Linked DNA regions of Homo sapiens: regions 1, 2 and 3 are each linked to region 4. The links come from fine-mapping of genetic effects on gene expression. A gene starts in region 4. Each other region holds a variant in brackets. All regions are shown on one strand. Distances are between the middles of the regions.

Region 1 (8,145 bases), 21 kb after region 4:
TGAGTTATCCTTAAGAAGGTAAACCAGACCTTGGCCCATTTCTGTGCAAACTCTCCAAGGCTCACGTCTAACTCAGAGCAAAAGCCAAAGGTCCCCTGCAGGATTAACTTCCGGCCCTCTGTGCTCCTCTCCTCCCACTCTTCCCTTCCATGCTCTCTCCAGCCACACAGGCCTACTTGTAACTTCTAAAATACATCAAGCACTTTAATTTCTTCTTCTACAAGCCATCTGCTAACTTCTCACCCCTTCAGGTCTTGGCTCCACTGTCACTCCATCAGAGTGGTCTTTTCATTTATTTATTTTTTTTTTATTTTTAAATTTTTGTACAGACAGGGTCTTACTATGTTGCCCAAGCTGGTTTTGAACTCCTGGACTCAAGTGATCCTTTTACCTTGGCCTCCCAAAATGCTGGGATTACAGGTACCACCCATACAGAATATCCCCTCCCCAGCCTCATTCTCTCTCCTTACCCTGCTTTCTTTCCTTTACTTATGTTGTATGTCACTCCCTCACATGCTGTGTATCTATTGGGGTTTTTTGGCTGCCTGTGGCCCCACTTGAATGTAAACTCCATGAAGTCAGGGGTTCTGTTCACAGCTGTATCCTCAGCTCCTTGGCCCCTGCCTGGTCCATGGTAGACACTCCATGAAGATTTACTGGATTACTTCTGATATTAAAAATACTTTATGCAGGAATGTTAGGGGTGTGACCATTTTTCCTGCTCCTTTCAATAACTAGGTCACTAGGAGTTAAAAAGAAAGGCAAAGGCAGCTGGGTGTGATGGCTCACGCCCGTAATCCCAGAACTTTGGGAGGCCAAGGCGGGCAGATCACCTGAGGTCAGGAGTTTGAGACCAGCCTGGCTAACAGGGTGAAACCCCGTTTCTACTAAAAATCCAAAAAATTAGCCGGGGGTGGTGGTGTGTGCCTCTAATCCCAGCTACTCGGGAGGCTGAGGCAGGAGAATCGCTTGAACCCAGGAAGTGGAGGTTGCAGTGAGCCGAGATCGCACCATTGCACTCCAGCTTGGGCAACAAGAGTGAAATTCCGTCTCAAAAAAAAAAAAAAAAGAAAGAAAGGCAAATGCATAAGTGTTTCCTAGAAGTTGTTGCCTGAAACACGGAAAACAGCTGCCTTTTTAATCTTACCAGAGGATCATGTCTAAAGGCATCTATTTGGGGACTGAGTGTGCATGTACAAGGAGTCCAGCGGCGCTTTACCTGGGTCTGCAATGCCCTAGCTGGTCTCTTCTGCCCATGGTCTTCTCATGCTCCCCCACCTACACCAACACTCTCACACTGACCTCCTTGTCCTCTGTGTCTCACTGCTTCTAGGGTCCTGATTGTCAATGGCCAACTTCTCTCTCCCTTCCCCCATCAGCTTTTTCTCTCTTCATCCTCAGCTCTTTCTCTAGACCCTTTAAAAGTCATTTATAAGCCTGCATGGCACATGTCTTTGTTTCCATCTGTGCCTGTCTGCCCCTCCTCACCAAACCTCTTAAGACCATGAAGCATTTGAAGTCAGGGGTTGTGTCTTATTCATCTTTATATCCTTAACCCGTAACACAGTACCTGGCACATTGTAGATGCTCAAAACCTGTTTGCTGAACAACTGAATGAATTCTCTATTGTTGACAAGCTGACTCTCCAGGACAGGCTGAGCTCATTCTTGGCAAAGATGTGCTGCAACATGCCCTCCAACCAGCATGCCCTGCCCCTCATTTCTACACACACAAGACCACCTTCAATAGTTAACTCTTAATTAAACAAGATATTTGGGCTCACTAAGCATTTATTGTCTATTTATAATGTTCTGGTACTGTACCCAGCAGTTGATAAAGATAAGTTGGTGCCTGATTTATTGGTCCAAGGTCCATCAGCTACCATTTCTTCATTAGGCCTCTCTCTTTTTTTTTTTTTTTTTTTTGAGACGGAGTCTGGCTCTGTCGCCCAGGCTGGAGTGCAGTGCAGTGGCGCGATCCCAGCTCACTGCAAGCTCCGCCTCCTGGGTTCACACCATTCTCCTGCCTCAGCCTCCAGAGTAGCTGGGACTACAGGAGTCCTCCACCATGCCCAGCTAATTTTTTGTATTTTTAGTGGAGACGGGGTTTCACCGTGTTAGCCAGGATGTTCTCGATCTCCTGACCTTGTGATCCGCCTGCCTCGGCCTCCCAAAGTGCTGGGATTACAGGCGTGAGCCACCGCGCCCAGCCGCCTAGGCCTCTCTTTATAACTCCAAACAATGCACACCTTCCCCCCATCAGAGGGTGCACAGCACGGAGGACTGGTTTCAGAGAGAGGAAGTAAAGCTCTGTGTGGGGTTAGGACAGTGGTATGTAAGGGCTGGGGTCAGACTGCCTGGTTCAAACCCAGTTTTCCTAATAACTTCCTTCATAAGGTTGTTGGGAAGATTAAATGAGATAATGTGTCCAAAGGACATAGATTATGACAGTGCCTGTAATCCCAGGACTTTGGGAGGATGAGGTAGGAAGATCGCTTGAGGCCAGGTAGGTGGGGGAGCATGAGAAGACAGTACCAACCTGGCCAACATAAGGAGACCCTATCTCTTTAAGTTAAAATTTTTTTTAATGAAAAAAACTTTTAAAAAGAACAACAACAAAAAAAGAAGGACATAAATTATGATCAACAAATGCTAGCTGTTATTATCGTCACAGATTAGGCCTTTGATCCTTTGATATGAGATTCTACTTTATGAAGTATTGTGGTGTATTTTCTTATTAGGTCATATATATAAATGATCTTTTTTTGTTGTTTTTTTAAAGAGACAGGGTTTCACTCTGTTGCTCAGGCTGGAGTGTAGTGGTGTGATTATAGCCCACTGCAACCTCGAACTCCTGGGCTCAAGCGATCCTCCCGCCTCAACCTCCTGAGTAGTTGGGACCAAGTCACATGCCACCACACCCGGCTGATTTTTTAAAAAAATTTTTGTAGAGACAGGGCCTTGCTATGTTGCTCTTGCTGGTCTCAAACTCCTGGACTCACCAAATCCTCCCGCCTCAGCCTCCCAAAGCTCTGGGATTACAAGCTTCAGCTGCTCCACCTGGCCATAAATTGTCTCTTAAATGACAGTTCAATTAACTAGAAGGCATGGATCATGAGCAAATAGTAGGCTTAGAATGAACAGGGAGGAATTGGGCTGGGCGCGGTGGCTCACGCCTGTAATCCCAGCACTTTGGGAGGCCGAGGCGGGCGGATCACGAGGTCAGGAGATCAAGAACATCCTGGCTAACACAGTGAAACCCCGTCTCTACTAAAAATACAAAAAATTAGCCGGGCGTGGTGGCGGGCGCCTGTAGTCCCAGCTACTCTGGAGGCTGAGGCAGGAGAATGGCGTGAACCTGGGAGGCGGAGCTTGCAGTGAGCCGAGATCACGCCGCTGCACTCCAGCCTGGGGGACAGAGCCAGACTCCATCTCAAAAAAAAAAAAAAAAAGAATGAACAGGGAGGAATTGAGTTGAACCAACTATATTAGTTAATCCATAATTTCTGAGACTGTATCTTTATTTTTATTTATTTACTTTTAAATTCTTTTTTGAGACAGAGTCTCGCTCTTTTCTGGAGTGCAATGGTGTGATCTCGGCTCACTGCAACCTCCACCTCCCGGGTTCAAGCGATTCTCTTGCCTCAGTCTCATGAGTAGCTGGGATTACAGGAGCCTGCCACCATGCCTGGCTAATTTTTTTGTGTTTTTAGTAGAGACAGGGTTTTACCATGTTGGCCAGGCTGGTCTCGAACTGCTGACCTCAGGTGATCTGCCTGCCTCGGCCTCCCAAAGTGCTGGGATTACAGGCGTGAGCCACTGTGCCTGGCCATGAGACTGTATCTTATTTTGCTATTTGGCAGATGTTTTTCTCAGAAGAAGATTAGAGAAGAGGACCAGCCATTTCATATATGATTCCATATATGTAAGTCATCATGTCTGATGGGGGATTTTA[C/T]TGGGCGTGGGAGTGTATAGAAACCCTTTGTCCCAAGGCTGCCATCCTTTTTCATAATCAGCTGGAATGATTAATTGAAAACAGCGCTACATAGAACATATGTCTACGTAAAACCCTGGCTCTGGTAGTCAATGCTGCCTCTGCTTTTCTCTAGCTGTACATTGGGTAAGTTATTTAACCTCTGTTTCCTTATTTGAGGGTAAAGATAATGATAACAGTCCTACCTCATAGGGCTATCATGAAAATTTAATAAGTGCCTAGCACACAGTTAAGGGCACAATATGCGGTTGCTTTTTTTTTTTTTTTGAGACGAAGTTTTGTTCACTCTTGTTGCCCAGGCTGGAGTGCAATGGTGCAATCTCGGCTCACTCCAACCTTCACCTCCAGGGTTCAAGTGATTCTCCTGCCTCAGCCTCCCGAGTAGCTGGGACTATAGGCGCCCGCCACCACTGCCAGCTAATTTTTGTATTTTTAGTAGAGACGGGGTTTCACCATGTTGGCTAGGCTGGTCTGGAACTTCTGACCTCAGATGATCCACCTGCCTCGGCCTCCCAAAGTGCTGGGATTACAGGTATGAGCCACCACGCCCGACCTGTGGTTGCTATTTTTATAATGACTTCTTTATACGTTTGCTGCAGCTCTGAGGCAGGTCTTTGAGTTGTACCACTAGTGGGTCGGTTTGGCTTTCTAGGCCAAAGAAGGAATTCTTTTGAGTGTCATATAGTTATGAAAGTACAGGCTGTGTGTGGTGGTTCACACCCATAGTCCCAGCACTTTGGGAGGCCAAGGCAGGAGGATTGCTTGAGCCGAGGAGCTCAAGACCAGCCTGGGCAAAATAGCAAGACCCCATATCTTAAAAAACAAAACAAAAGTACAGAAGCTTGCTCCTGCCTTGCCCAGAAGCCTCCTTTGACCTGAGAAAGTAACCAAGCATCTCCATCCACTACTCCACTGGGAGCAGCTGGGACACGAGAACATGCTTGCTGTTATTTTATTTGCATTTCTCCAATTAATCTGGCACCAGAATTGGAATTTTAGAGTTGCAAGAGATCTTGGAGCAGGGTCTCTGAGAGATGATAAAAGTACAGGTTTTAGAGTCAGACTGAAGCTAGGTTGAAAACCTGGCACTGAACTTTACCAGTGGGGTGACCTTGAGGCAAATGACTTAGACCTTCTAGCCTTTTACTTCCAAGTGGGCCAGGCCTCACCCCAGACCTCCTGAATCAGGATCTGAATTTTAACAAGATCCACCAGTGATGCATAGATACTTTAAAGTTTAAGAAGCTATCATCTAACCCTCAGTCTTCTTGTTGGTAAAATTGGGTGAGCAGTGGCCTAGCTTGGTGGCTCACGCCTGTAATCCCAGCACTTTGGGAGGCTGAGGTGGGCGGATCATGAGGTCAGGAGTTCAAGACCAGCCTGGCCAACATGGTGAAACTAAAAATATAAAAATACAAAAAGTACAAAAATTAGCCAGGCATGGTGGCAGTCGCCTATAATCCTAGCTACTCGGGAGTCTGAGGCAGGAGAATCACTTGAATCGGGGGGGCCCGGAGGTTGCAGTGAGCCGAGATCGCACCACTGCACTGCAGCCTGGGCAACAGAGCAAGACTCCATCTGAAAAAAAAAAAAAAAAGAAAAAGAAAAACCAGACAGGGTCTTGCTCTGTCACTCAGGCTGGAGTGCATGGGCATGATCATAGCTCACTGCAGTCTCAACCTCCTAGGCTCAAGTGATCCTCCCACCTCAGCCTCCCAAATAGCTGGTACTACAGGTGTATACCACCACACCTGGCTAATTAAAAAAATTTTTTTGCCGGGTGCCGTGGCTTACGCCTGTAATCCCAGCACTTTGGGAGGTTGAGATAGATCGCCTGAGGTCAGGAAGTGGAGACCAGCCTGACCAACATGGAGAAACTCTGTCTCTACTAGAAATACAAAAATTAGCCAGGCGTGGTGGAACATGCCTGTAATCCCAGCTACTCGGGAGGCTGAGGCAGGAGAATCACTTGAACCTGGGAGGCAGAGGTTGTGGTGAACCGAGATCGCGCCATTGCACTCCAGCCTGGGCAACAAGAGCAAAACTCCATCTAAAAAAAAAAAAAAAATTTTTTTTTTAGAGACAGGGTCTTGCTATGTTACTCAGGCTGGTCTCAAACTCCTGGGCTCAAGCAATCCTTCTGCCTCAGCCTCCAAAGGACTGGTGTTGGCCCGTGAAATGTGAGTAAAATTTACAGCATGCTAGTTTTAAGTGAAGACCTTAAAAGGCTTCCTGTTTTTCTGCTCACACCTTTGCATTCCTGTGGTCTTCCATGAGAAAAAATATCTCCCAGAAGCTACTGATCTGAGAAAAATGAGAAAACACGTGCAGCAGACCTAACCCAACTCATAGCCTGAACCCAGGCCCAGCCAAGCCCAGCGGGGCACTCAGAGACCCAGTGGAGCCATGGGCCCATGAAGGAGAAAATAAATGTTTGTTGTTGTAAACTGCCAAGATTTTGAATTTGGTTAGGCAGCACAAACTATTTCACTCTGAGTGATGAAATCATCCGAATCATCATCATCTCTGAATGATGAAATAGTTGATTTTTATTTCCTTCCCTATTATTTTCCGTATTTTCCAAGTATATTTGAATGAGTTTGTATTATTTTAAAGAAAAAAGATAAGCCGGGTGCTGTGGCTCATGGCTGTAATCCCAGCACTTTGGGAGGCTGAAGCCTGCGGATTGCTTGCGGTTGGGAGTTCAAGACCAGCCTGGCCAACATAGTGAAACCCTGTCTCTACTAAAAATACAAAAATTAGCCGGGCATGGTGGTGGGCACCTGTAATCCCAGCTACTTGGGAGGCTGAGGCAGGAGAATCATTTGAACCTGGGAAGTGGAGGTTTCAGTGAGCTGAGATCGCATCACTGCACTCCAACCTGGGCGACAGAGACTCCGTGGAAGGAAGGGAGGGAGGGAGGAAAGGAAGGAAGCAAGGAAGGGAGGGAGACAGGGAGGGAGGGATAAAGATAAATAAAAAAGAAGAAAGATACATAAAAAAGGAGGGCCTTCACTATTATGATACAAGATCAAACTCACCTGAACTTACAAAAAGAATGTAAGGCTGGGTGCCATTGCTCATGCCTATAATCCCAGCACTTTGGGAGGCCAAGGTAGGAGGATTGCTTGAGCCCAGGAGTTTGGGACCAGCCCAATCAACATAGTGAGACCCCCATCTCTACAAAAAATAGAAAAAATTAATCCCAGCTACTTGGCAGGCTGAGGTGGGAGGATCACTTGAACCCAGGAAGTTGAGGCTGCAGTGAGTCGTGGTTGTACCACTGCACTCCAGCCTGGCCAACAGAGTGAGACTCTGTCTCAAAAAAAAAAAAAAAAAAAGGAATTTATAAGATTGTTAAAACAACTTTGAATGGTGGCTCACACTTGTAATCCCAGCACTTTGGGAGGCCGAGGCAGGCAGATCACAAGGTCAGGAGATCAAGACCATCCTGGCTAACATGGTGAAAACCCATCTCTATTAAAAATACAAAAAATTAGCTGGGCATGGTGGCAAGCACCTGTAGTCCCAGCTACTTGGGAGGCTGAGAGAGGAGAATCGCTTGAATCCCGGAGGCGGAGGTTGCAGTGAGCCAAGATCGTGCCACTGCACTCCAGCCTGGGTGACAGAGTGAGACTCCGTCTCAAAAAAAATAAAAAATAAAAACAACTTTGAAAACACAAGTATGCTAATTTACATGTATTTTCTCTCATTTCCCTCTCTCTGCACAGTTAACAATGAAGTCAGCATTCACATTTCTATGGCTTTGAATATATGTCTAGTGTTTTGAAAGAGCAGCTATTTCTAAGATTGTGTTTTAGGATCTGATAATATTGTCAGAGGCAGTTAAACCAGAGCAACTCCATCTTGAATAGGGGCTGGGTAAAATGAGGCTGAAAACTGGGCTGCATTCCCAGATGGTTAAGGCATTCTAAGTCACAGGATGAGATATGAGGTCGGCACAAGATACAGGTCATAAAGACCTTGCTGATAAAACAGGTTGCAGTAAAGAAGCCGAAACCAGCCAGGCGCGGTGGCTCATGCCTGTAATCCCAGCACTTTGGGAGGCCAAGGAGAGCAGATTACCTGAGGCTGGGAGTTCGAGAGCAGCCTGGCCAACATGGAGAAACTCTGTCTCTACTAAAAATACAA
Region 2 (8,145 bases), 24 kb before region 4:
AATTAGCCAGGCGTGGTGGTGGGCGCCTGTAATCCCAGCTACTTGGGAGGATAAGGCAGGAGAATCGCTTGAACCCAGGAGGCCGAGGTTGCAGTGAGCCAAGATGGCACCACTGCACTCCAGCCTGGGAGACAGAGCAAGATTCTCTCTCAGAAAAATACATAAATAAATAAAATAAAATAAACAAACAAACATAAAGTTTTTAGGCTGGGCACCGTGGCCTATGCCTCTAATGCCAGCACTTTGGGAGAGCGAGGTAGGTGGATCACTTGAGGTCAGGAGTTCAAGACCAGCCTGGCCAACATGGTGAAACCCCGTCTCTACTAAAAATACAAAAATTAGCCAGGTGTGGTAGCGGAAACCTGTAATCCCAGCTACTAGGGAAGCTGAGGCAGGAGAATTACTTGAACTCAGGAGGCAGAGGCTGCAGTGAACCAAGATCATACCACTGCACTCCAGCCTGGGCAACAGAGCGAGATTCTGTCTCAAAAAAAAAAACACAGTTTTTAAAAAGATTAAAAAAAAAGAATTTCAGTTTTAATGGACAGAAATGGTCACTAGAATAAACACCATCATTTCCCTCCCTGTGCTGCAATTTTTTAAGCCATAAATTCTGATAAATCTGTTATATTTTTAACAAAGTCTCCCATTTACACAAATCTCTGGTTAAAGAAAAAAGTCTGACTTCCACTGGTAAGAACTAGACACAGTTCCCCTGCAAGAGCCCAGGTGGCCTCTGAAAGAGTTCACAACATAAGGCTTGGCTAAAACTGCTTTCTCGGGATTAGGTAATTGAGTCTACCCGATGGTACATAGAAGCTATAATTAAACGCTTTCCATGGGTTTGCCATTCACCCCAGGCTACATGGTGGAGCTGAGGTGAGGAACTCAGACCTGAGCCAGATCCAGCAGTGTTGAGAGTTAATCCCTCATATGCAGGTGAGCTGGCTAGGGCCCAGAGCTGGGACTCCAGGCTCCTGCTGTAGTGGCTGCTGCCATGCCCTCATGTTCTCCAAAAAAGAATGATAGAAAACTCATCAGAGCAAAGGATGTTCCACACGGCACAGAAGTTTTCTGCAGCCCACCTAGAAGAATAGCTTAGGTTTCCTCTCAGAGCTAATACAAAGAGAAATGGGACCAACTTCCCGCAAGGCCGTACCTTTTGAGGGTCACTGCCTTGGTGGTGAGGAATAGCAGGGGGAAAATATGCCTAAAATACAAAGTAAATTGCCGAGACCAGCTCAGTCAAGGAGACCCTAACCCAGTGGCACTAGAGGAATTAAAGACACACACACAGAAATATAGAGGTGTGAAGTGGGAAATCAGGGGTCTCACAGCCTTCAGAGCTGAGAGCCCCGAACAGAGATTTACCCACGTATTTATTAACAGCAAGCCAGTCATTAACATTGTTTCTATAGATATTCGATTAACTAAAAGTATCCCTTATGGGAAATGGGATTAACTAAAAGTATCCCTTATGGGACACGAAGGGATGGGCTGAAATAAAGGGGTGGGTCTGGCTAGTTATCTGCAGCAGGAGCATGTCCTTAAGGCACTGATCGCTCAGGCTATTGTTTGTGGTTTAAGAACGCCTTTAAGCAGTTTTCCGCCCTGGGAGGGCCAGGTGTTCCTTGCACTCATTCCAGTAAACTCACAACCTTCCATCGTGGGCGTTATGGCCAGCATGAACATGTCACAGTGCTGCAGAGATTTTGTTTATGGCCAGTTTTGGAGCCAGTTTATGGCCAGATTTTGGGGGACCTGTTCCCAACAGTAAATAAAGGAAGAAAGCAAAGCTCTATTTCTTCCTAGATGCTTATGGTCCTGCATTATCATTACACTCAAAATTTGTGAAGTTCAGACTGGCAAATAAAAGACCATGAAAATGTGGTGTTTACAACACTCTAGATAAACAGACACACATTTTTGGCAAGTGTGTAACTGGTGCAACACCTTAGGAGGGCAACTTACCACAATCAAAATTACATGTATCCTTTGACCCAGAAGTTCCACTTCTTATTTTTTTATTTTTATTTTTGGACAGAGTCTCTCTCTGTTGCCCAGGCTGGAGTGCAGTGGTGCAATCACAGCTCACTACAGCCTTTAACTCCTGGGCTCAAGCGATCGTCCTGCCTCAGCCTCCCAAGTAGCTGAGACAATATGTTTACAGCACCTCCCCTGGCTACTTTTGTTGTTGTTATTGTGCGATAGGGTCTTGCCACATTGCCCAGGCTGGCCTTGAACTCCTGGGCTCAAGAGATCCTTCCACCTTCACTTATAGAAATACAATACATGCAAAGACACACTGTCTCCCTCTCTGCTGAATGACTCTCATTGCCTTTCTTGCCTCCGCATTCCCCTGCTCCCTTTCACAATTAAAATTGCTGTAAGGGATTGTCACTGTCATTGTGTGGACTTCCTTCCTTCTAATTCTTTCTTGAACACACTATTCTGGCTTCCTTTCCCCATCACATCACTGAGAGGGTGGTCTTGCCAAGGTCACCAACATTCTCCAAGGGCAAGCTCAGGTAGTCACTCCTCTGTTCATATCTCACTTGGCTTCTTAGTAATTTTCACCATGATTGATTACTCTGTCCTTTATGCCCTTGGCTTTCCTGACAGCATATTTGCTGGACTTTCTTCTTGCCATAGTGGCTGGTCCTTCTCAGTGTCTCTTACTGGCCCTTCCTCTGCTCAAAAGAGTCTACATGCTGAAGGCCTCTGTCCAGGGCCCTCTTTTCTTCATCTATATTCTCTCCACTAGGTGTCAGAGACATTTGAACCAGAGCAACCCTTGAATAGGAGCTGGGTAAAATAAGGCTGAACACTACTGGGCTGCATTCCCAGACAGGCACTCTAAGTCACAAGATGAGGTAGGAGGTCAGCACAAGATACAGGTCATGGCCTGGTGTGGTGGCTCACACCTGTAATCCCAGCACTCTGGGAGGCCGAGGCGGGTGGATCACCTGAGGTCAGGAGTTCGAGACCAGCCTGACCAACATGGCAAAACCCCGTCTCTACTAAAAATACAAAAAAATTGCCGGGTGTGGTGATGCATGCCTGTAATTCCAGCTACTCAGGAGGCTGAGGCAGGAGAATGGCTTGAACCAGGAGGTGGAGGTTGCAGTGAGCCGAAATCATGCCACTGCACTCCAGCCTGGGCAAAAAGAACGAAACTCCATCTCAAAAAAAAAAAAAAAAGATACAGGTCATAAAGACCTTACTGATAAAACAGTTTGCAGTGAAGAAGCCGGCTAAAACCCACCAAAACCGGATGGCCACGAGAGTGACCTCTGGTTATCCTCACCGCTACACACCCACGAGCACCATGACAGTTTACAAATGCCATGGCAACATCAGGAAGTTACCCTATATGGTCTAAAATGGGGAGGCATGAACAATCCACCCCTTGTTTAACATATCATCAAGAAATAACCATAAAAATGGGCAACCACCAGCTATGGGGGCTGCTGTCTGCAGAGTAGCCATTCTTTTATTCCTTCACTTTCCTAATCAACTTGCTTTCACTTTATCGACTCGCCCTGAGTTCTTTCTTGAGTGAGATCCAAGAAAACTCTCTTGGGATCTGGATCTGGACCCCTTTCTAGTAACATAGGTAACCTCACCAAGTTCTTTTTTTTTTTTTTTCTCGCGCTGTTGCCCAGGCTGGAGTGCAGTGGCACGATCTCAGCTCACTGAAACCTCTGCCTCCTGGGTTCAAGCAATCCTCCCACCTCAGCCTCCTGAGTAACACTGGGACCACAAGCGCATGCCACCACACTGGGCTAATTATTTTTATCTTTTGTAGAGATAGGGTTTTGCCACGTAGCCCAGGCTGATCTCAAACTCTTGAGCTCACATGATCCTCCCACCTCAGCCTCCCAAAGTGCTAGGATTACAGGTGTAAGCCACCGCACCCAACCTCCTACTCAACAATGCTGCTTGGATGTCTAACAGGCATCTCAATCTCAAGATGCCATGGTCAAAACAGAACTCTTAACTTTCAACCTCCAAACATGCTCACTCCTAATTATTTCACCATTATCCATCAAGCAGAAACTCTAGGCACAAGCTTTGATTCCTCTTCTTTTCACATCTGTTGACTTTAGGCTTCTTCTCTCCCTCTCTGTTAGCACCACCCTAATTCAAGCCAACATCACCTCTTGCTTGGATTACTCCAAATTGTTCTTGCTTTCTCATCTTGTCCTTCTATAATCCCTATTCCACATAATAGCCAGTGATTTTTTTCTTTTTTTGAGAGGGAGTCTCGCTCTGTCACCCAGGCTGGAGTGCAGTGGCATGATCTCAGCTTACTGCAACCTCCGCCTCCCGGGTTCAAGCGATTCTCCTGCCTCAGCCTCTTGAGTAGCTGGGATTACAGGTGCACACCACCACGCCCAGCTAATTTTTGTATTTTTAGTAGAGACGGGCTTTCACCATGTTGATCAGGCAGGTCTTGAACTCCTGACCTCGTGATCCGCCTGCCTTGGCCTCCCAAAGTGCTGGGATTAAAGGCGTGAGCCACCGCGCCCGGCCACCAGTGATTTTTTAAATGGGCAGTAAAACAAACCTATGGCATCCCATGTAGAAAGAAAATCAAGCTCCTTACTCCCTTACAGTTCCCTTCAGTTATCAAGCTCTTGCCTCTCTCCAGCCTACTTGCTCATACTCTTCCTTCCCTTACTCATTCCCATAAAGCCCTTGCTTGGGATCCTCCCATGGCTGGCTCTCCTGCCCTTTACATTGCCACTTAAATTTCACCTCCTTAGAAACCTTCCCTGATCTCCCAATATAAAATACTCTTAGCATTTACTACTATTGGATATTTTGTTTTGTTTTCAGTCTTTCTCCAATCAGAAAGTAAACTCCATGAGAATAGAGTTCTTGTCTATTTTGTTCTCCACAATATTCCTTACTGCCTAGAAGATGACTTGGCACATAGTGCGTGGTGGAAGAATATTGAATTA[ACAAGTATGTAC/C]AGATTTCCACTCAAATATTATTTATATAGCAATATAAGTATAGCATAAGCTGGATTCCATAAATTATGGTATATGTGCACATGGAGATAGCCATTTAAAATAATGAGGTCAATCTGTAAATGCTAACATGGCAATCATATCCAAGATGTGTTCACGTATATAATGCAGAAACCAGCCTCCCATGTAATCCCCAGTGATCCTCGCCTCCTGGTGTTTATGCTAGGTAGTCTTCTCCCAGATTGAATTGGAGCTAGCTTGTCTGACCAAGCAATTGGAGCTAGCATGGTGGAGGTGATGGTGTGTGACCTCTGAAGCTAAGTAATGAAAGGCATTGTGGCTTTCCCCTTGTTCTCATGGATCACTCATTTTGGGGAACACCAATCTTCATGTTATGAGGTCAGTCCAACAGCCCTGTGAAGAGGCCCACGTGGAGGGGAACTGAAGCTTTCTGCCACCAACATGCCAGCCCTGTGGAGGATCCTCCAGCCCCCGTCACATCTTCAGCTAGCAGCAGCTCCAGCCAGTATCTTACCTGGTACCTCATGAGATCCTAAGCCAGAACCATTGGGCTAAACTGCTCCTGAATTCATAACCCACAGAAACTGTGAAAGTTAGTAAATGTTTATGACTGTCTTAAGACACTAAATTTTGAGGTAATTTATGTGTAATTTAACTAATACATGGTGTAACTCCTTTTATTTTTAAAAAGCATGTATACATGTTTATACATGCATAAAAACATCTCAAAGAATATACAGAGGGCGTATAAACGGGTTCCCATGTGGTGGGTAGGGAGGGTGTTCATTTCTCATTATATACTTATACTCTCAGATTTACTTATTTATTTTAGCTACTCAATAGGTATGGGTTTTTTAATTTGCATTTTTCTAATGACTAAGGCTAAGCATCTTTTATGTTTCAATATGCCTATTTGCCATCTATTCTATTCTATTCAGTTCTTCTTCTTTTTATTTATTTTTCATTTTTTAGAGATGAGGTCTCACTATGTTCCTCAGGGTGGGGTGTAGTAGCTACTCACTAGTGTGATCATGGCTTCGTGGCTCACTGCAGCCTTGAACTGCTGGGCTCAAGCAATGGTGTAAACAAAGCAGTGGTTAGGGGGGTAAGCCATAGTAGTGGCCCTTCTGGAAACTTCTTGTCCTTCACATTTACTTTGACTTTCTGCCTGTCTCAGGATCTAGCTCTGGAATAAGCTATGCTTTAAAGGCTTTTGAGAAGCCCATATACTGGAGGGTTAGGTTTCTGGGGTTTGTGTTTTTTTTTTAAATATTGATGTATTCCACTGAGAGAACATCAACCCCTCAACTGGATAGCTGTTAAGGTGGAAATCCTAATTTAATTATTTGCATTTAATAATGCAGTAATGTTGCAATGAATGTTTGTGGAATTGTGAACCCTGAATATTTGAGACAGGTCTCAGTTAATTTAGAAAGTTTATTTTGCTAAGGTTGAGGACACATGCCCGTGACACAGCCTCTGGAGGTCCTGACGACATGTGCCCAAGGTGGTGTGAAAGGAAAATATCTTGGGCCCCCAAAATCACTGCGCTAAAAGTTAAAAGTCAAACTGGAAACTGCACAGGGCGAACCTGCCTCCCGTTCTATTCAAAGTCAACCTCCACTCACTGAGATAAATGCATATCTGATTGCCTTCTTTGGAAAGGAAGAAACTCAAAAGAATGCAAGAGAGTTTGTCTCTCACCTATCTGTGACCTGGAAGTCCCTTCCCTGCTTTTCTGGTCTTTGCTTCAAGTTATCCCGCCTTTCCAGACCAAACCAATGTACATTTTACATATATTGATGTTTCATGTCTCCCTAAAATGTGTAAAACCAAGCTGTGCCCTGATCACCTTGGGCACATGTCGTCAGAATTTCCTGAGGCAGTGTCACAGGCATGCGTCAACCTTGGCAAAATAAACTTTCTAAATTAACTGAGAACTGTCTCAAATGTTTAGGGTTCACAGTGCTCAGAGCAGTTTGGTTTTACACATTTTAGAGACACATGAGACATCAATCAACGTATGTAAGATGAACATTGGTTCGGTCTGGAAAGGCAGGACAACTTGAAGCGGGGAGGGGGCTTCCAGGTCATAGGTAGATGAGAGACAAACAGTTGCATTCTTTCGAGTTTCTGATTAGCCTCTAGAAAGGAGGCAATCAGATATGCTTTTTTTTTTTTTTTTTTTTTTTTGAGATGGAGTCTTGCTCTGTCACCCAGGCTGGAGTACAGTGGCGCAATCTCAGCTCACTGCAACTTCCGCCTCCTGGGTTCAAGCGATGTTCCTGCCTCAGCCTCCCAAGTAGCTGGGACTACAGGCACCCAGCAGCATGCCCGGCTAATTTTTTTTGTATTTTTAGTAGAGACGGAGTTTCACCTTGTTGGCCAGGCTGGTCTCGAACTCCTGACCAGGATGGTCTCGATCTCTTGACCTCGTGATCCGCCCACCTCGGCCTGCCAAAATGCTGGGATTACAGGTATGAGCCACCGCACCCGGCCCAGATATGCATTTGTCTCAGTGAGCAGAGGGGTAACTTTGAATAGGAGAGGCAGGTTTGCCCTAAGCGGTTCCCAGCTTGACTTTTCCCATTAGCTTAGTGATTTTGGGGCCACAGGATTTATTTTCCTTTCACAGGATGAAGGATTGAACCACTCACACTGCTGCTGGGTTCTTGATGGGCCCGCAGGCTTGGGCTGTGGTTTTTACCGGAGGTTGTCTGTAACTCTGGTCAGGCTTAATTTCTCACCAATAAAGACAAAGGCTGGGAAACAGTCCATAGATTGACCCACTGGTAGAGGCAAGAGCAGTTCATACTCAAATCACGGAATATTTCAAACTGTCCCTCCAGAGAGGCATTCCAAGGTTGGTCTGAGTCACTCTAATTGTTGACATTTAAGTGGGACAATCATCTCAGTGAAGTTCCAAGGCTTGAATAAAATGTAGGGCTAGATCCCTGATCACTAAGGGCTTGGTTTTTGTCTTCAGAACTGGGGGTCAGGAAAGGACTGGCCACATCAGAAACTTCTTTTTGAGAAGACATCTAAACACCCAAGCAAAAACTTATCATTTTAATCAAGATCCGGAGGACAGCAAGTACTACCTTTGATTCTGCAATAAATTATAGTCCTCTCAGGGGCCTCCAAAGGG
Region 3 (8,145 bases), 35 kb after region 4:
GTGAGCCACTGCACCTGGCTTATCCCAAATTTTTAGTTTAGTAGGCAGTTAACTTGGCTGAACTCAAATTCTGAATTTTGCCTCCCCCGTGGTGAGTGAACAGCTGAAGCCTCTGTTATTTTAGCCTTATCTGAACTGCTTGGAGTCTACCCTGTGCATGCATAGTTGGAGATCTGCCAGATACTTGGGTAGCCTCCCCCTGCAGCTGGGAACCAGAGTTGTCAGGTGTGCTGTCCTGAGCCAATATATACACATATACAAATGAATTGGCTCATGTAGTTATGGAGGTTGAGAAATCCCAAGATCTGCAGTTGCCAAGCTGGAGACCCAGGGGAACAAATGATGTAAATTCCAGTCCAAGTCCAAGCCCAAAGGCAGAAGCCTAATGTTCCCAGCGCAAAAACAGTCAGCCAGAGAGAACAAATGTTGTTATATTCAGCCTTTTTGTTGTATTCAGGCCTTCAACGATTGAATGAGGCCCACAGACATGGGGGAGGGCAATTTGCTTAACTCAGTCAACCTATAGAAATGTTCATTTCATCCAGAAACACCCTCAGCGTTACACTCAGAATAATGTTTAACCAAATATCTGAGCATCCCGTGGTCCAGTCAAGTTGACACATAAAATGCACAGATAAAATCCAGACTTTTTTTTTTTCTTTTGAGACGGAGTCTCACTCTGTTGCCCAGGCTAGAGTGCAGTGGTGCGATCTTGGCTCACTGCAAGCTCTGCCTCCTGGGTTCATGCCATTCTCCTGCCTCAGCCTCCCAAGTAGCTGGGACTACAGGCACCAACCACCACGCCCGGCTAATTTTTTGTATTTTTAGTAGAGACGGGGTTTCATCGTGTTAGCCAGGATTGTCTCGATCTCCTGACCTCGTGATCCAACCGCCTCGGCCTCCCAAAGTGCTGGGATTACAGGCGTGAGCCACTGCACCCGGCCTTTTTTTTTTTTTTTTTTTTTTTTTTTTGAGATGAAGTTTCGCTCTTGTTGCCCAGGCTGGAGTGCAATGGCGCGATCTTGGCTCACTGCAACCTCCGCCTCCTAGGTTCAAGCGATTCTCCTGCCTCAGCCTCCCGAGTAGCTGGGATTACAGGCACCCGCCACCATGCCCGGCTAATTTTTGTATTTTTAGTAGAGACGGAGTTTCACCACGTTGGCCAGGCTGGTCTCGAACTCCTGACCTCAGGTGATCCGCCTGCTTCGGCCTCCCAAAGTGCTGGGATTATAGGCGTGAGCCACCACACCCGGCTAAAATCCAGACTTTTATGGCAGATGGAAAGGCAAGGGAAGCTGGTTAAAATGAAGATTCTTCGGATCCACCGGTCACCTGCTGAATCTTTGCCCCAAGAAATCTGTGTTTTTAACAAGTTTCTCAGGCCAGGTGCGATGGCTCATGCCTGTAATCCCAGCACTTTGGGAGGCTGAGGCAGGTGGATCACCTGAGGTCAGGAGTTCGAGACCAACCTAGTCAACATGACAAAACCGTGTCTTTACTAAAAATACAAAAACTAGCCAGGCTTGGTGGTGGGCACCTGTAATCCCAGCTACTCGGAAGGCTGAGGCAGGAGAATCGCTTGAACCCAGGAGGCAGAGGTTGCAGTGAGCTGAGACTGTGCCACTGCACTGCAGCCTGGCGACAGAGCGAGACTCTGTCTCAAAAAAAAAGGAGCGTCTCAAAGATTTCTGATTTACATTATAATAGAACTGCTGCTTGAGATTCTGGAAAGATTCATTAATTTCATAATATATGGACTTAACACTCAATCTGAAGGATGTTAGAATAACAAGAATAATCATGGGAAATGGTCGAGGTCTTTCTCCTGATGGTATACGGGCCATTTTCAAGTGGGATGGGAGTAGTTAATGTGTGATCTATGTGTTGATCTCATACAGGGCAGAAACCAATTTGAGCAAGTAATGCCCCAGGGCACACCCCCTTACTCACCCACACCTCAAAATAATTTTACCAACTGTTTGTTCAAAGTCCAAGTGACAAAGGGCAGTGCTGGTTGTCATTGTTCTTGGGTGAGTCATACTATACTGCTTTCTAATTCTTCTTCCTCCTCAAACCTGCTTTCTTCCCATCTTCTAGGGGTTGAGGATTGTTTTTTTTTTAATCACACTCCACAAATGTGAACCTTCTTCTTTTTTTTTTTTTTTTGAGACGGAGTCTTGCTCTGTCGCCCAGGTTGAAGTGCAGTGGCGTGATCTCTGCTCACTGCAAGCTCCGCTTCCCGGGTTCACGCCATTCTTCTGCCTCAGCCTCCCAAGTAGCTGGGACTACAGGCACCTGCCACCACGCCCGGCTAGTTTTTTGTATTTTTAGTAGAGATGGGGTTTCACCGTGTTAGCCAGAACGGTCTCGTTGTCCTGACCTCGTGATCCGCCCGCCTCGGCCTCCCAAAGTGCGGGGATTACAGGCTTGAGCCACCACACCTGGCTGAACCTCTTTTTTCTATCACACTACCAGGATCTCTCTTTCTCCTAACTGTGCATGTGTGTGTTTGCACACGTGTGTGTATGTGTGTTTCTAAATTTTGGACATTCTTTATGAAGTTCTATATGATGTAATTATTTTTTTGTGTGTATGCACATGAGGCTAGGTTTTAAAATACATACATTTATTTAATTTTTAAAATATATGTAAAATTATTGAAGTATCACATACCTACAAAAAGTGTACATGTCAGCCAGGTGCAGTGTCTCATGCCTTTAATCCCAGAACTTTGAAAGGCTGAAGCATGTGGATCACTTGAGGTCAGGAGTTCAAGACCAGCCTGGCCAACATGGCAAAACCCCGTCTCTACTAAAACTACAAAAATTTGCCAGGCATGGTGGTGCACGCCTGTAGTCCCAGCTACTCAAGAGTCTGAGGCACCAGAATCGCTTGAATCCGCAAAGCAGAGTTTGCGGTGAGCCAAGACTATGCCACTGCACTGCAGCCTGGATGATAGAGTGAGACTCTGTCTCAAGAAAAAAAAAAAGTGTACATATGATAAGTTTGCAGTTTCATGAATTTTTATAAAATTCATATCCATAGAACCAGAATTCAAATCAAGAATCAGAATGCTACCAGAATCCTGGAAGACTCCCTCGTGCTGTCTTCCAGTCACGAATTCCCACCAGGGTAATGTGAGCCAAAAATGAAATTATAAGCTCCTCCCCCAAATGACTAAACAGACCCCTTCCTCTCCACCAAGGGGATTTCAAACCCGGGTATGAGGGTCTCATATGCCTCATTATACTCTCCTCCCTTTGGAATTCAGGCACAGCTGACCAGCATTAACATTAAAACAGAGATCTTATGACTGACAAAGCAGATTCTTTGTAGCAATAAAATACCAAATTCCAACCTGATTCTAGTATAGCATCACACGACAGATAGCAGATCCTGAAAGGAATAAAAATCTTTTGCCCCAGAATATATTCCTTTGACATATTTTTATTTATTATTTTCCTTTTATGTCAGACAGGTAATGTGCCAACATCCTAACAAGGTTCGAGGGTGGCACATCTGACACACGCATGTGAACGCCCGATCATTATGCTCTTGAACTACAAAAGGATCGACTTTGACGTATTTTTAAATGGCTCTGCAAAACTGTATCTCGTGGGAGAAATTTACTTTCTATAGAGAATCCCCTTCCCTTTCCAAGTCTTTTTCCGATCCTGAAGAGACTGGCTGAGAGACCAGCACCTTTTAAAGTTCTAAATAGAAAACATTTGCCATCTCTTGCCTCTAAGGGTGGCCACCTAGGAGACTTTATCTACATAATAAGAACCTTGAAGTCTCCACAAGTCCTTATCTTAACCCAAACCCTCCTTTCTATTGATTCCAGGTCTCTAGGTAATAACTCTTTCAACCAATTGCCAATCAGAAAATCTTTGAACCTACCTGTCACCTAGAAGCACAGTTCCCGACTTGAGTTGTGCTGCCTTTCTAGATTGAACCAATGTATGCCTCACATGTATTGATTGATGTCTTATGTTTCCCTAAAACATACAAAACTAAGCTGTAACTGAACCACCTCGGACACATTTCTCAGGACCTCTTGAGAGTGTCTCTTGGGCCATGGTCACTCATATTCGGCTCAGAGTAAACCTCTTTAAATATTTTACAGAGTTTGACTCTTTTCGTCAACAGTAACAACTGTTCTAACTTCTAGAATAATAGATTAGTTTTTAGCTGGCACAGCAGCTCACACCTGTAATCCCAGCATTTGGGGAGGTTGAGGTAGAAGGACTCCCTGAGCCCAGGAGTTTGAGACCAGCCTGGGCAACACAGTGAGATCTCATCTCCACAAAAAATTAAATAAATTAGTAGGGTGTGGTTGTGTGTGACTGTAGTCCCAGCTACTTGGGAGGCTGAGGCAGGAGGATCACTTGAGCCCAGGAATGCAAGGCTGCAGTGAGCTAAGATCACACCATTGCACTCCAGCCTGGGTGATAGAGTGGGACCCTGTCTCACTCAAGAACTTTAAAACTGGATTAGTTTTGTCTATTTTTATTTTTTATCTTTATTTTTGAGAGATGGGGTCTCGCTCTGTCACCCAGGCTGGAGTGCAGCAGCGTGACCTCAGCTCACTGCACCCTCCACCTCCCAGGTTCAAGCCATTCTCCTGCCTCAGCCTTCTGAGTAGCTGGATTACAGGC[A/G]TCTGCCACCATGCCTGGCTAACATGGTGAGACAGGGTTTCACCACGTTGGCCAGGCTAATCTCGAACTCCCACCCTCACGTGATCCACCTGCCTCAGCCTCCCAAAGCGTTGGGATTACAGGCATGAGCCACCACGCCCGGCCCAATTTTGTCTATTGTTAAAGTTTTGACCTTTACATTACACAAGTAGAATCGTAAACTACGTACTCTTTTTTTGTCTGGCTTCTTTTGGTCCTCACATTGTGAGATTCATTCCGGTTGTGGTTTATAGTTGTAGCTTATTCATTCTCATTGCTGTATAACCTTTCATTATGTGGAAATACCATCATTTTTTTTTACCAGGACCCTGAACCCAGGCCACCATTGTGAAAAGAGAAAGCACAGCTACATGGTTACAAGGTCAGTCTCCCAAGGAAATGACTAACCAGTTTGCTGGGCTGTCTTGAACAGCAGGCATATAGGGGTCCTAGGTCCACATTCTATCCTAAGGTACTCCTCATCTTGACAGAACAATACAGAAAGATACACAAAGCACACCAGATTCACTACAGTTTAAGATTAGCCTCAGTAATCCTTTTTTCCATTAATCAAAACTTTACAGAGGAGATAAACAGTGATTTTTGTTTTTGTTTTTTATTGTTGTTTGTTTTTTGAGCTGGAGTCTCGCTCTGCTGCCCAGGCTGGAGTGCAATGGCATGATCTTGGTTCACTGCAACCTCTGCCTCCCGGGTTCAAGCGATTCTCCTGCCTCATCCTCCCGAGTAGCTGGGACTACAGGCACTTGCCACCATGCCCGGCTAATTTTTTGTATTTTTAGTAGAGACAGGGTTTCACCGTGTTGCCCAGGCTGGTGTCGAACTCCTGAACTCAGGCGATCTGCCCGCCTCGGCCTCCCAAAGTGCTGGATTACAGGTGTGAGCCACTACGCCTGGGATAAACAGTGATTTTTAGCATTCATTTAACCCGTTTGCGGGGGGAGAGAGAGAGAGAGAGAGAGAGAGAAAGAGCGCATTGCCTGAGGCAGGGTGGGAAAAGTGAAGAGCTCAGGGAGACCAGAGTAAGACCCGCCCATTACTCAAAAGTTCAGATGGCTGCTTGCCTGTCAAGAAGGAATCTTTTCCAGCAGTCCTGTCAGCTCTCAAGTTTCCCCTTTTAGGAAAGAAAAAGCTCCCCATGTCCCACAATCCTGTACATGCCAATCCTGACACCCACAGTCATCAGCAAAGAGTGCAAAGCAGATTATTCCATAGAGAGTAGCAGTTAACATCCTGTAGTGCCAAACCCATATTTAGCCGAAAGGGACTTTACTGAGAGGGGCCTCTAACCCTCCTAAGTTGGGCCTTGAACCCAATGTTGGTCAAGTGTCCTTGCCTCTTATTGAGAGGAGCCTTTAACCCTCTTTGTCTTAGGAGAGACTCTAACTCCTCTAAGTTGGGCCTCTCACCCAATCCCATTTTTCACCCAGGTACCCCACCAATTTATCCAAAGTCAACCAATCTCTTTCCTTTGAGTGAGGGGATTTCTTCAGTATCATCCCTTCAGGGTTTGCCAGAAAGATGTCACCGGACCCTACCACTTACCCAAAGTTAGCCTTTGGGTCAGGGGTTTACCGCACTATAGTCCCTTCTGTGGTTGCCAAAAAGATGTTACAAGAAGGGGGGGTCCTGATCCATACCCCAAGAGCGGGTTCTTGGATTTTGCACAAGAAAGAATTCAGAGCAGGTCCCTAGAGAAAAGTGAAAGCAAGTTTATTAGCAAAGTAGAGTAACCAAAGAATGGCTACTCCACAGACAGAGCGGCCCCAAGGGCTGCTGGTTGCCCATTTTTATGGTTATTTCTTGATGATATGCTAAACAAGGGGTGGATTATTCATGCCTCCCCTTTTTTAGACCCTATAGGGTAACTTCCTGACGTTGCCATGGCATTTGTAAACTGTCATGGTGCTAATGGGAGTGTAGCAGTAAGGACGATCATCACCATCTTGGTTTTGGTGGGTTTTGGCCGGCTTCCTTACTGCAACCTGTTTTATCAGCAAAGTCTTTATGACCTGTATCTTGTGCTGGTCTCCTATCTCATCCTGTGACTTAGAATGCCTAACTGGGAATGCAGCCCAGTAGGACTCAGCCTTATTTTACCCAGCCCCTACTGAAGATGGAGTTGCTCTAGTTCAAAGGCCTCTAACAATCATAGATCACTGGAACTTCAAACTCCTGGCCTCAGGTGATCCTTCCGTGGTGGCCTCCCAAAGCACTGGGATTACGAGTGTAGGCCGTCATGACCAGCCCTATCCATATCTTTTTTTTTTTTTTTTTTTGAAACAGAGTTTCACTCTGTTGCCCAGGCTGGAGTGTAGTGGCACAATCTCAGCTCAATGCAGCCTCAACCTCCTGGGTTCAAGCAATTCCCCCACCTCATTCTCCAGAGTAGCTGGGACTATAGTCACTATAGTCACCTGCTACCATGCCCAGCTAATTTTTTTTTTTTTTTTTTTAGATGGAGTCTCGCTCTGTCACCAGGCTAGAGTACAATGGTGCCATCTCAGCTCACTGCAACATCCGACGCCCTGGTTCAAGGGATTCTCCTGCTTCAACCTGCCAAGTAGCTGGGATTACAGGCACACACCACCATGCCCAGCTAATTTTTGTATTTTTAGTAGAGACGGGGTTTCACCATGTTGGCCAGGATGGTCTCGATCTCCTGACCTTGTGATCTGCCTTCCTTGGCCTCCCAAAGTGCTGGGATTACAGGCGTGACCCACTGCACCCAGCCATGCCCAGCTAATTTATTATTTTTTGTAGATACGGGATCTCCCTGTGTTGCCCAGGCTGGTCTTTAACTCCTGGGCTCAAGTAGTCCTCCTGCCTCGGCCTCCCAAAGTGCTGGGATTACAATGAGCAACCACACCTGGTCCCATATTTTTGTTTGTTGTTTTTGAGAGAGGATCTTACTTCATCACCCTGGTTGGAGTGTCGTGATGTGATCATGGCTCAGTGTAGCCTCAACCTCCCTGGCTCAAGTGATTCTCCTGCCTCAGCCTCCTGAGTAGCTGGGACTACAGGTGCACACTACCATGCCCAGCTAACTTATGCATTTTTTGTAGAGTCAGAGTTTTGCTGTGTTGCCCAAGCTGGTCTCCAACTCCTGAGCTCAAGCGATCCACCTGCCTCAGCCTCCAAAAGTGTTAGGATTACAGGCATAAGCCACTGAGCCCAGCCCCCATCCTATTTTTAATGGACATTTGAGTGTCCAATGTTTGGCTCTTGCAAACAGTGTGAAGCATAGTTTTTATACTGAGTCCTGGTTTTAAGAGGGAGTGTTAAGTATTCAAGTTAAAAAAAAAAACAACAAAGACTGCTTGTGGCAAATAATAGAAACAAATGAACATTCCACAGATACCTTTGTTCACCCTAAAAATGGCTCCCAGGGTTGGAAGCCCATATGGGAAAGAGGAAAAAAGAAAGAGAGCCCAGAGCCGAGAGTGATTTA
Region 4 (8,145 bases):
AAATTTAAAGTCCTATCTTCCAGTTCATTGCAGTGTTCTGTCATATTACAAAACTTTGGCCAGGCACGGTGGCTCATGCCTATAATCCCAGCACTTTGGGAGGCTGAGGCAGGTGGATCACTTGAGGTCAGGAGTTCAAGATCAGCCTGGCCAACGTGGCGAAACCCCGTTTATACCAAAAACACAAAAATTAGTTGGATGTGGTGGTGTGCGCCTGTAGTCCCAGCTACTCCAGAGGCTGAGGCATGAGAATCACTTAAACCTGGGAGGCAGAGGTTGCAGTGAGCCGAGATCGTGCCACTGCACTACAGCCTGGGCAACAGAGTGAGATTCTATCTCAGGGGGAAAAAAAAAATGGAAATACCACATGTCTATCAACAAAGGACTAATTTTAAAATTGATGCATCCTTCTGTAACATTTTGGAGTCATTAAAAATGTTTTATATGTATTGACATGATACTGATGTGCTTATATAATCCCATACTTGCACAAACATATTTTCTGTATTTGTGAATACATATTTTGTGCATGGATGTAATAAAGAGTGGGAAAATATATAAGCCGAAATATTAGCGGTGGCTACTTTGGTACTGAAGTTCAGGGTGATTTAATTAAATGTTTCCTTTTTTTGTTTTGGCTCATTTTTCCCTCGAGTGATCACATATTGTTTTTATAATTTAAAAAACAATTATAGGTAGGGCGCAGTAGCTCATGCCTGTAATCCCAGCACTTTGGGAGGCTGAAGGTGGGTGGATCACCTGAGGTCAGGAGTTTGAGATCAGCCTGACCAATATGGTGAAACCCTGTCTCTACTAAAAATACAAAAATTAGCTGGGGGTGGTGGTGCGTGCCTGTCGTCCCAGCTACTCGGGAGGCTGCAGCAGGAGACTTCCTTGAGCCCGGGAGAGGTGGAGGTTGCAATGAGCCAAAATTGCACCACTGCACTCAAGCCTGGGCAACCGAATGAGAGTCAAAAAAAAAAAAAACCCAAAAAACCAAAAAAACAAAAAAAAACCACCAAACCAATTATAAAGAAAACAGAAGTTCCAGTCTCCAAAAGATAAATGGAATGACCTAGGCCTGTAACATGGTGGAAAAAAATAAGTAAGTGGCAGAGAGAAGCTGACTGAAATGAACACCACATGGACCAGCCAGGGTACTCTGGGCAAGACTCCTCACTTCATTCATTTGCTATTTACTGAGGTCCCGTAGGTGATGAGACTATGCTAGACGTGATGGAAAGGATGGTAGGGCCCCCTGCCTCCAGGAGTTAACGATGCAGTGAGGACACATATTAAGCATGTTTACCCAAATAATTATCAATTACTATTGTAAAGGGAAAGAGAAGCCCTGATTTCCAAGTGTTTTCCTTGCCTTGCCTCCTCAATTCAGTGTCCTTCACCTGTACCCTGAGAAGGTTGTGATCTCGGCTGAGTTCGTTTCTATGAGGCAGTCTTTTGGAGTGAGGCTTTGGGAAGAAAATCAAACCCCAAATCGGCCCTGCAGCCACCTGAGGGGCACGCAGAAGGACCGGCTAAAAAGCGAGTGAGCAAAGACCCACCCTGAGGGCAGAAAAGCTTTGCTAACACTGTATTTCTTATTAAAATCAATTTAGTTTTAAGGTGGGAGGAAAGCTCCATCTGCCTAAATCAATTGTCAGTGTTACTTCACTAACCCTTTGGGAAAGTTACTTTGCAAGGGAATAAAAGTATGGTGGGGGGAGGATGAGGAACAAGGTGCAATATTAAGTGGCTATAGTTAACAAGTAACCTGATTTTTCCTTATTGTTAAATCAAGTTCGCCTTATAATCCAGGGATCTCCCAATCCCCCAAGAGTAGTAAACAAGAACAAGACAAATAATCGGGGCATGCTTCCTACAGGGATCTCTGAATCATAAAGATGTTGAATCAGCTATACCAACATGTATTTTTTTAAAGTTTGCACATACTAACCTTTGCTCCTGAATTTTAAGTTTCCAACTTTAAAGGACATAGAGGAGAGGTGTCCATTACAGTTTTCAATACTTCCTGGAACTAAATGCCTTTATTCTGATGCTGATTAAGAAAAAAAAATATACCAGCGGTGCACAGTTTTCAAGCTTACACCATTAACACCCTTTTCCCTAACTGCAGAGGGAAAAGAATCACATTCTTCCATCTAATTCCAACCCACTGTGACTTGCTCTTTTACTTCGTCTTTATGAAGAGGAGGATAAAAGTGAGAAATGCGCATTTCTGAGGGAAATTAAAAGCTCCCTTTGCTACCCAGGCTGCCCCAAACAGAGGGGCCTCGGTTAGGATCACAGTGGCGCGATCGCAGGTCAAACATCCCCCACGGCCACAGCGAGGCCTGCTGGGCCCGGAAGAACACACTCCCAGCAATACAAGTTCGAGCACACCCGGAGCAGCACATCCAAGGAACGCGACGGCCGGGCGCAAGTGCTGCTCTGTTCCCAGGCCAGCCAGCCTCTGGCCTGCAGACCTGGGTGGCAGCCAGTGGCCGCTCCGGGTGGCACACTAGGAAAGTCCCGGAACCCCAGGCCCAGAGGGTCAACTGGTCAAATATAAGGCAGGGTCCAAAAAGTTCCGCTCGTAAATCCTCGTGGCGCCCAACGGGCCTGAGCGCTCATTACCACCAGAACCCATCAGGGACCGGCCCTGACTTTCATACCCCGGGCCTTCCACTGTGGGTGCCAGGAGCAGCGGGACCCGGGTGGGTCTCGAACGCAGGGGCCAGAACCCGAAGAAAGGCTTCCAGCAGTTGGAGAGGGACGCAAAAAACAACCTAGAAGGCTCCCGGGCCGCGGGTTCCCACCCACTCCGCCCTGCCCTGCGCAATCAGCTCGCTAACCCCACCGGCCCCGCGGGGCCAGCGGAGGAAGTCTCCGGAGTTGGCAAAAAGCTCTTAATGACTTAGTGTTTACAAAGCAACCAAGCCCGGGGAGGGGACTAGGTCCTCTGCGTACCCTTTAGACACAGCTACTCCTTCCTTCCCTCCCTTTCCCCGAACCCACGCTGGGGCCTGGAGGTGCCCAGCATGACAGCCTCTACGGGAAGTGGGGTCTTTGGGGAAATCTCTGCCTCTGCCCGGCTCCGCTGACTTCAGCTGCTCCCGCATGTCCCACCTGGGTGCCTCCTTGGCGCAGAGACCTCACATCAAAGCCACCAAGGGGAGGCTAAGGGATTCGTAGAGATGGGTGCCGGCAGCAGAACAGCCTTCGCACACCTGCCCGGATCCCACCGTCTGCCCAGCGTGCCCAGGACCCCAGCTCCTCAGAGATAAGAGCCCTCCTTGGCCAGGTTTCTCACCTTGGATGGTGCCACTGCAGGAGAGAGAGGCTGCTAGCAGGATGGCGGCCCCCAGCAGCCACGCCGCGCTGGGGCTCCGCATCCTCCTGGAAGCCCCGACGCCGGGCGCGCGGGGAATCCGCCGCCGCCGATTCGAAACTCAGAGCTCCACTGGACGCACCGAGAGAAAGTCAGCCTCTCACCTGCCCCGAATCGGAGCCTCTGCTGCGCGCCTCCCCAGGGCGGGTTAGGTTTCAGGGAAACCGAAGGAGCAGCGTACTCACCTGCGGGAGGCCACGCCCCGGGACCGGAACGCGCGCCCTGGTCCCGCCCCCGGCCCCCTTCCCTGCGCAGCTGCGCCCTCCGCTTCCCGGACTCGCGCCAGGTCCCTTAGACTGCGGGAGCCGCCTGCGGGCGGGGTTGAGCGCATGAGGTGTCTGCTTTGGAATGCAAATAGCAGGAGCGCTGGGACCACGGGTTAATCCCTGCCTAGGCTATACCGCGAACTACCTTTAATCTTTACTTACTCCTAGAGAAGCGGGTCGTCGGTCTCCCTTGCCTTTCCTGACTGTGGGAAAGCCACGATTCGTACTCACTGCAATTGTGGTTGGTAACTGATACAGACAGGGCTTCCCGGTGCGGTGGACCCTGCAGGAGGAGGGATGCGTTTTTTATTGTAGAGGCAGGTGGGCAACTGCGGACATCACGAAAGCGGTGGGGAGCACAAGAGGCGGGGCGGGAAAGAAGACATGGAATGGCTACTTTCAGCGCCAAGTGCCAAAGCTTTAGAGAATTATCTTGCTTAATCCCCATAACAACCAGCGCAATAAGTATGATTATTCTTCCCATTTTACAGACGAGGAAAGTGAGCTTAGAAAGACCAGATAAATTGGCCAGAGTTACACGACTTATAAACACAGTGTATAAATGTTTATCACATTTCAACTCCAGTATAAGACTATCACTGTCTTCTATTCATCGCTGCACTATAAATGCGTCCACCAGGGCTCCTCTGCATTGGGATCCCATAGGCTAAATAAATACAAAAGCAGATAGAAGGGGTGGGAGAAGAGAAGTGTGGGGTTGGGGATGAGTGCATGAGGGTTGGCATCATATTGGTAATGTCTTACTTTTTGTTTTTGAGACGGAGTCTCGCTCTGTCTCCCAGGCTGGAGTGCAGTGGCGTGATCTCGGCTCACTGCAAACTTTGTCTCCTGGGTTCAAGCAATTCTCTGGCCGCAGCCTCCCGAGTAGCTGGAGTTACAGGCGTGCACCACATCTGGCTAATTTTTGTATTTTTAGTAGAGGCGGGGTTTCACCATGTTGGTCTGGCTAGTCTCGAACTCCTGACCTCGTGATCAGCCCACCTCCGCCTCCCAAAGTGCTGCGATTACAGGCGTGAGCCACCGCACCCAGCATGTCTTACTTTTTATTTGCTTTTTAAAAGATTGAATAAAACAAAGTCTACTGTTACCCATTTAAACTATTGGTACCAGAAGAGCACAGAAGAGAGACATAGGTATTTTCAAATATTTAAAGGATTCGCTTGTAGAAGAGGATTTAGATGTGTTTTGAGTTGCTCCAGAGAGCAAAAATTGGTGGAAGCCACAGTGGGGTTTAATTTCAGCTCAATGTATAAAGAAATTTTCTTTATTTTTTATTTTAATTTCTATTAGAAAATAGAAGTGGGGTCTCCCTATCTTGTCCAGTCTGGTCTGGAACTCCTGGCTTCATGTGATCCTCCCCACTCAGCCTCCCAAAGTGCTGGGATTACAGGAATGAGCCACCACACCCGGACAGGCTTCTCCCCTTGTTGACATCTGTGTGATCCCAAGTTTACTTATCCTCTCTAAGCTTTCTTATAATATATATATATATACACACACACGTGGTTTAAAGGTTTATAGGTGTCTGTCTGAGGATAAAATAGTGACTAGTGACTGGGTTTGATACATGGTAGAAGCTCAATAAATATTTTTTGTTTATTTCCTTTCTCTGAGGAGTCTTCATACTCCACCTGCACCCCAGCTCTCACCTCAGCCCATGCCCACTTTTCCTCCCAGGAAAAGCTGACTTCTAGAAGCAGAACAGGAACCTTTGACATCCTGAACAGCGGACAGCTCTCCTGATAGGGATCAGGCCATTCCTGAAGGTCCCTCCCCAGGGGAGATAACTGATTCCTAAGATGTCCCTTCAAACTTTTCAAGCATCCATTTCCTCATCTGTAGCTTATTAATATTACATCTATCATCTGGGAATGATACTAGTACCTCTCTCGTAGGGTGGTTGTGAGGATTCACTTTGCTAAATGTCCATAAAGCACTTCTTAGTACCGTTTCTGGTATATAGTAAGCACCTAAGAAATGGGAACTGCTATAGAATGACTGCCTTTAAGGTGGAATCTTCCTCTTTCAGAGAACAATACATCAGGGTCCAGCTGCTTTCGATTTAAATTTTCACTGTATTTTATGGGAATATGCCTTGAATCATCACAATTTCCAATAAAAGACTTTATTGAACAATGCTATGAGTTAATTATCTCAAAAATGTGGTTTCTTCCCCCAGCCTGACTAAATGAACTAAACTCACTTGAGTCAGTTTGCAGGTGTTTTTCTGTAATTTTGGGAGTATAGTATTTGTTTTTCAGGTGTTGATGACTCCTTCGCCCTGAAGGGATTGGAGTATTGTATGGCTGTGTGGAACAGTACAAAGAAATGACCACAGGCAACTAGACTGCCTGGCTTCCAGAGATTAGGAACCTTCTGCAATCTTCCACCACCTACAATTCCAAAGAGGAGTTTAGACATTGAGGGAAAAGGTATTTCATTCAAATAATTTGTCAAACTCTTCCTGGAGAAACAAAGTCCCAAGTTACTGGGTCCTAATCAAATATAGTTGGAGAAAGTTACACTCATTTATTCACTGATTCATTGAGCACTCACTCTGGACAAGGTTAGTAATGAAATCCACATGGTAAGTCCTATGGTCCTCTTTCAGTCCTTTCTCAGTTACTCAGCCTAGCTGTAGAATTGGACACGATTGATTTCTCCCTCTTTCTGGAATGCTCTATTCACTTGGCTTCCAGGCCCACTCTTCTCTTGATTCTCCATCTGTCGCATTAGCAACTCAGAAGTGGGTTCTTTGCTAGTTCCCACCTACCCTCCTGACCACTATATTCTGGAGTGAGTGCCCCTAGCTTAGTCTTTGGACTTCTTTTCTTTTTTTTTTTTTTGAGACAGGATTTTACTCTGCTGCCCAGGCTGGAGTGCAGTGGCACGATCATGGCTCACTGCAGCCTCAACCTCCCAGGCTTAAGCAATCCTCTCACCTCAGGCCCTGAGTAGCTGGGACTACAGGCACACACCACCAGGCCTGGCTAATACTTTTTTATTTCTTGTAGAGACAGGTTCTCACTATGTTGCCCAGGCTGGTCTTGAACACCTGGGCTCAAGCAATCCTCCCACCTTGGATTCCCAAACTGTTGGGATTACAGGCATGAGCCACTGCGCCCAGCAGACTTCTTTTCTTCTCAAAGTATACACTCATTCCTTTGGTGACCTCATTCACTCCCATGGTTTTAAATACGATCTATATGTTGACAGCTCCCAAATTTCTATTTCTACTCCTGATTTCCCCAATCCAGACATATAGCATATTCATCTAGCTATTCAAAATCCCCCCTTGGATGTTTCTACAGGCATATCAAGCATAAGTCCAAAACTAACTTCCTGATTCATTACACCTCCACTGCCCTTTTCACAGTCTTCCCCCTCTCCTTAAATTACAACTCCATCCTTCCAATTGCTCAAATCAAGTCTTGGAGTCAGGCTAGGTGCAGTGGCTCATGCTTATAATCCCAGAAATTTGGGAGGCCAAGGCAGAAGGATTGGTTGAGCCTAGGAGTTTGAGATCAGCCTGGGCAATATATTGAGACCCTATTTCTACAAAAAAATTGCCCAGGGGTGGTTGTATGCACCTATAGTCCCAGCTATGCAGGTGGCTGGGCAGAGGGATCACTTAAGCCCAGGAGCTCCAGGCTGCAGTGAGCTGTGATTGTGCCACTGCACTCTAGCCTGAGCAACCAAGTGAGACCCTGTCTCTAAAAAATTAAAATTATTTGGCCAGGCACACTGGCTCACACCTGTAATCCCAGCACTTTGGGAAGCCAAGGCAGGCAGATCACTTGAGGTCAGGAGTTCGAGACCAGCCTGGCCAACATGGTGAAACCCCATCTCTACTAAAAATTAGCCAGACGTGGTGGCACAGGCTTATAATCCCAGCTACTCCGGAGGCTGAGGCAGGACAATCGCTTGAGTCCTGGAGGCGGAGGTTGCAGTGACCAGAGATTGTGCCACTGCACTCCAGCCTGGGCAACAGAGCAAGACTCTGTCTCAAAAAAAAAAAAAATTATAAAATGAAAATTAGGCTGGGTACAGTGGCTCATGCCTGTAATCCTAGCACTTTGGGAGGCCGAGGCAGGCAGATCACCTGAGATCAGGAGTTTGAGACCAGCCTGGCCAACATGGCCAAACCCTGTCTCTACTAAAAATACAAAAGAATTTAGCCATGTGTGGTGTCGGGCACCTGGAATCCCAGCTACTCGGGAGGCTGTTCAATCACTTGAACCTGGGAGGCGGAGGTTGTGGTGAGCCGAGATGGCACCATTGCACTCCAGCCTGGGCAACAAGAGCAACACTCCATTTTTTGCTCCAAGAACAAAAAAAGGAAAAGAAAACAAAAATACTAAAGTGCTTTCCACTTCCCTCTGAGTGAAAACCAAAATCTATCAAAGGTTTACACATCCTGTCCCCTCTTCCCCATCCACACACACACACCACCTCCTTGATGTTATCGCC

Which allele goes with the higher level. Alleles are on the strand shown, and positions count from the first base shown. SD is a standard deviation of normalised expression in the study named.
For the expression in sun-exposed skin of the gene that starts at base 3,545 in region 4, allele C in region 1 goes with a lower level than allele T (small effect, 0.20 SD a copy in GTEx).
For the expression in CD4 T cells of the gene that starts at base 3,545 in region 4, C is the low allele of the variant in region 2 and ACAAGTATGTAC is the other (small effect, 0.38 SD a copy in CEDAR).
For the expression in esophagus mucosa of the gene that starts at base 3,545 in region 4, allele A in region 3 goes with a lower level than allele G (moderate effect, 0.57 SD a copy in GTEx).

What was found. PIP is the estimated chance that this variant, and not a neighbour inherited with it, causes the effect. A credible set is the group of variants that fine-mapping cannot tell apart.
Region 1: its variant is the best candidate, but not a certain one, in a credible set for the expression of F2RL1 in sun-exposed skin (GTEx, PIP 0.55).
Region 2: its variant is the best candidate, but not a certain one, in a credible set for the expression of F2RL1 in CD4 T cells (CEDAR, PIP 0.55).
Region 3: its variant is the best candidate, but not a certain one, in a credible set for the expression of F2RL1 in esophagus mucosa (GTEx, PIP 0.90).

The regions. Positions count from the first base shown.
Region 1 is chr5:76,793,299-76,801,443 of GRCh38, reverse strand. No RefSeq gene overlaps it. Among named protein-coding and RNA genes, the nearest start is that of F2RL1, 22 kb to the left of the region's middle. RefSeq lists an enhancer at 2,091-2,591. The variant C/T (reference allele first, on the strand shown) is at 3,955.
Region 2 is chr5:76,838,796-76,846,940 of GRCh38, reverse strand. No RefSeq gene overlaps it. Among named protein-coding and RNA genes, the nearest start is that of S100Z, 7.1 kb to the left of the region's middle. The variant ACAAGTATGTAC/C (reference allele first, on the strand shown) is at 4,968.
Region 3 is chr5:76,779,523-76,787,667 of GRCh38, reverse strand. LOC124901199 (small nucleolar RNA U13) reads right to left here and starts at 3,572; the gene lies at 3,469-3,572. RefSeq lists an enhancer at 7,907-8,145. The variant A/G (reference allele first, on the strand shown) is at 4,659.
Region 4 is chr5:76,814,430-76,822,574 of GRCh38, reverse strand. F2RL1 (F2R like trypsin receptor 1) reads right to left here and starts at 3,545. Exons shown (of 2, transcript NM_005242.6): 1 at 3,311-3,545. The coding sequence starts at 3,392. RefSeq lists enhancers at 2,594-3,211, 3,212-3,829, 7,362-8,016 and a silencer at 3,517-3,811.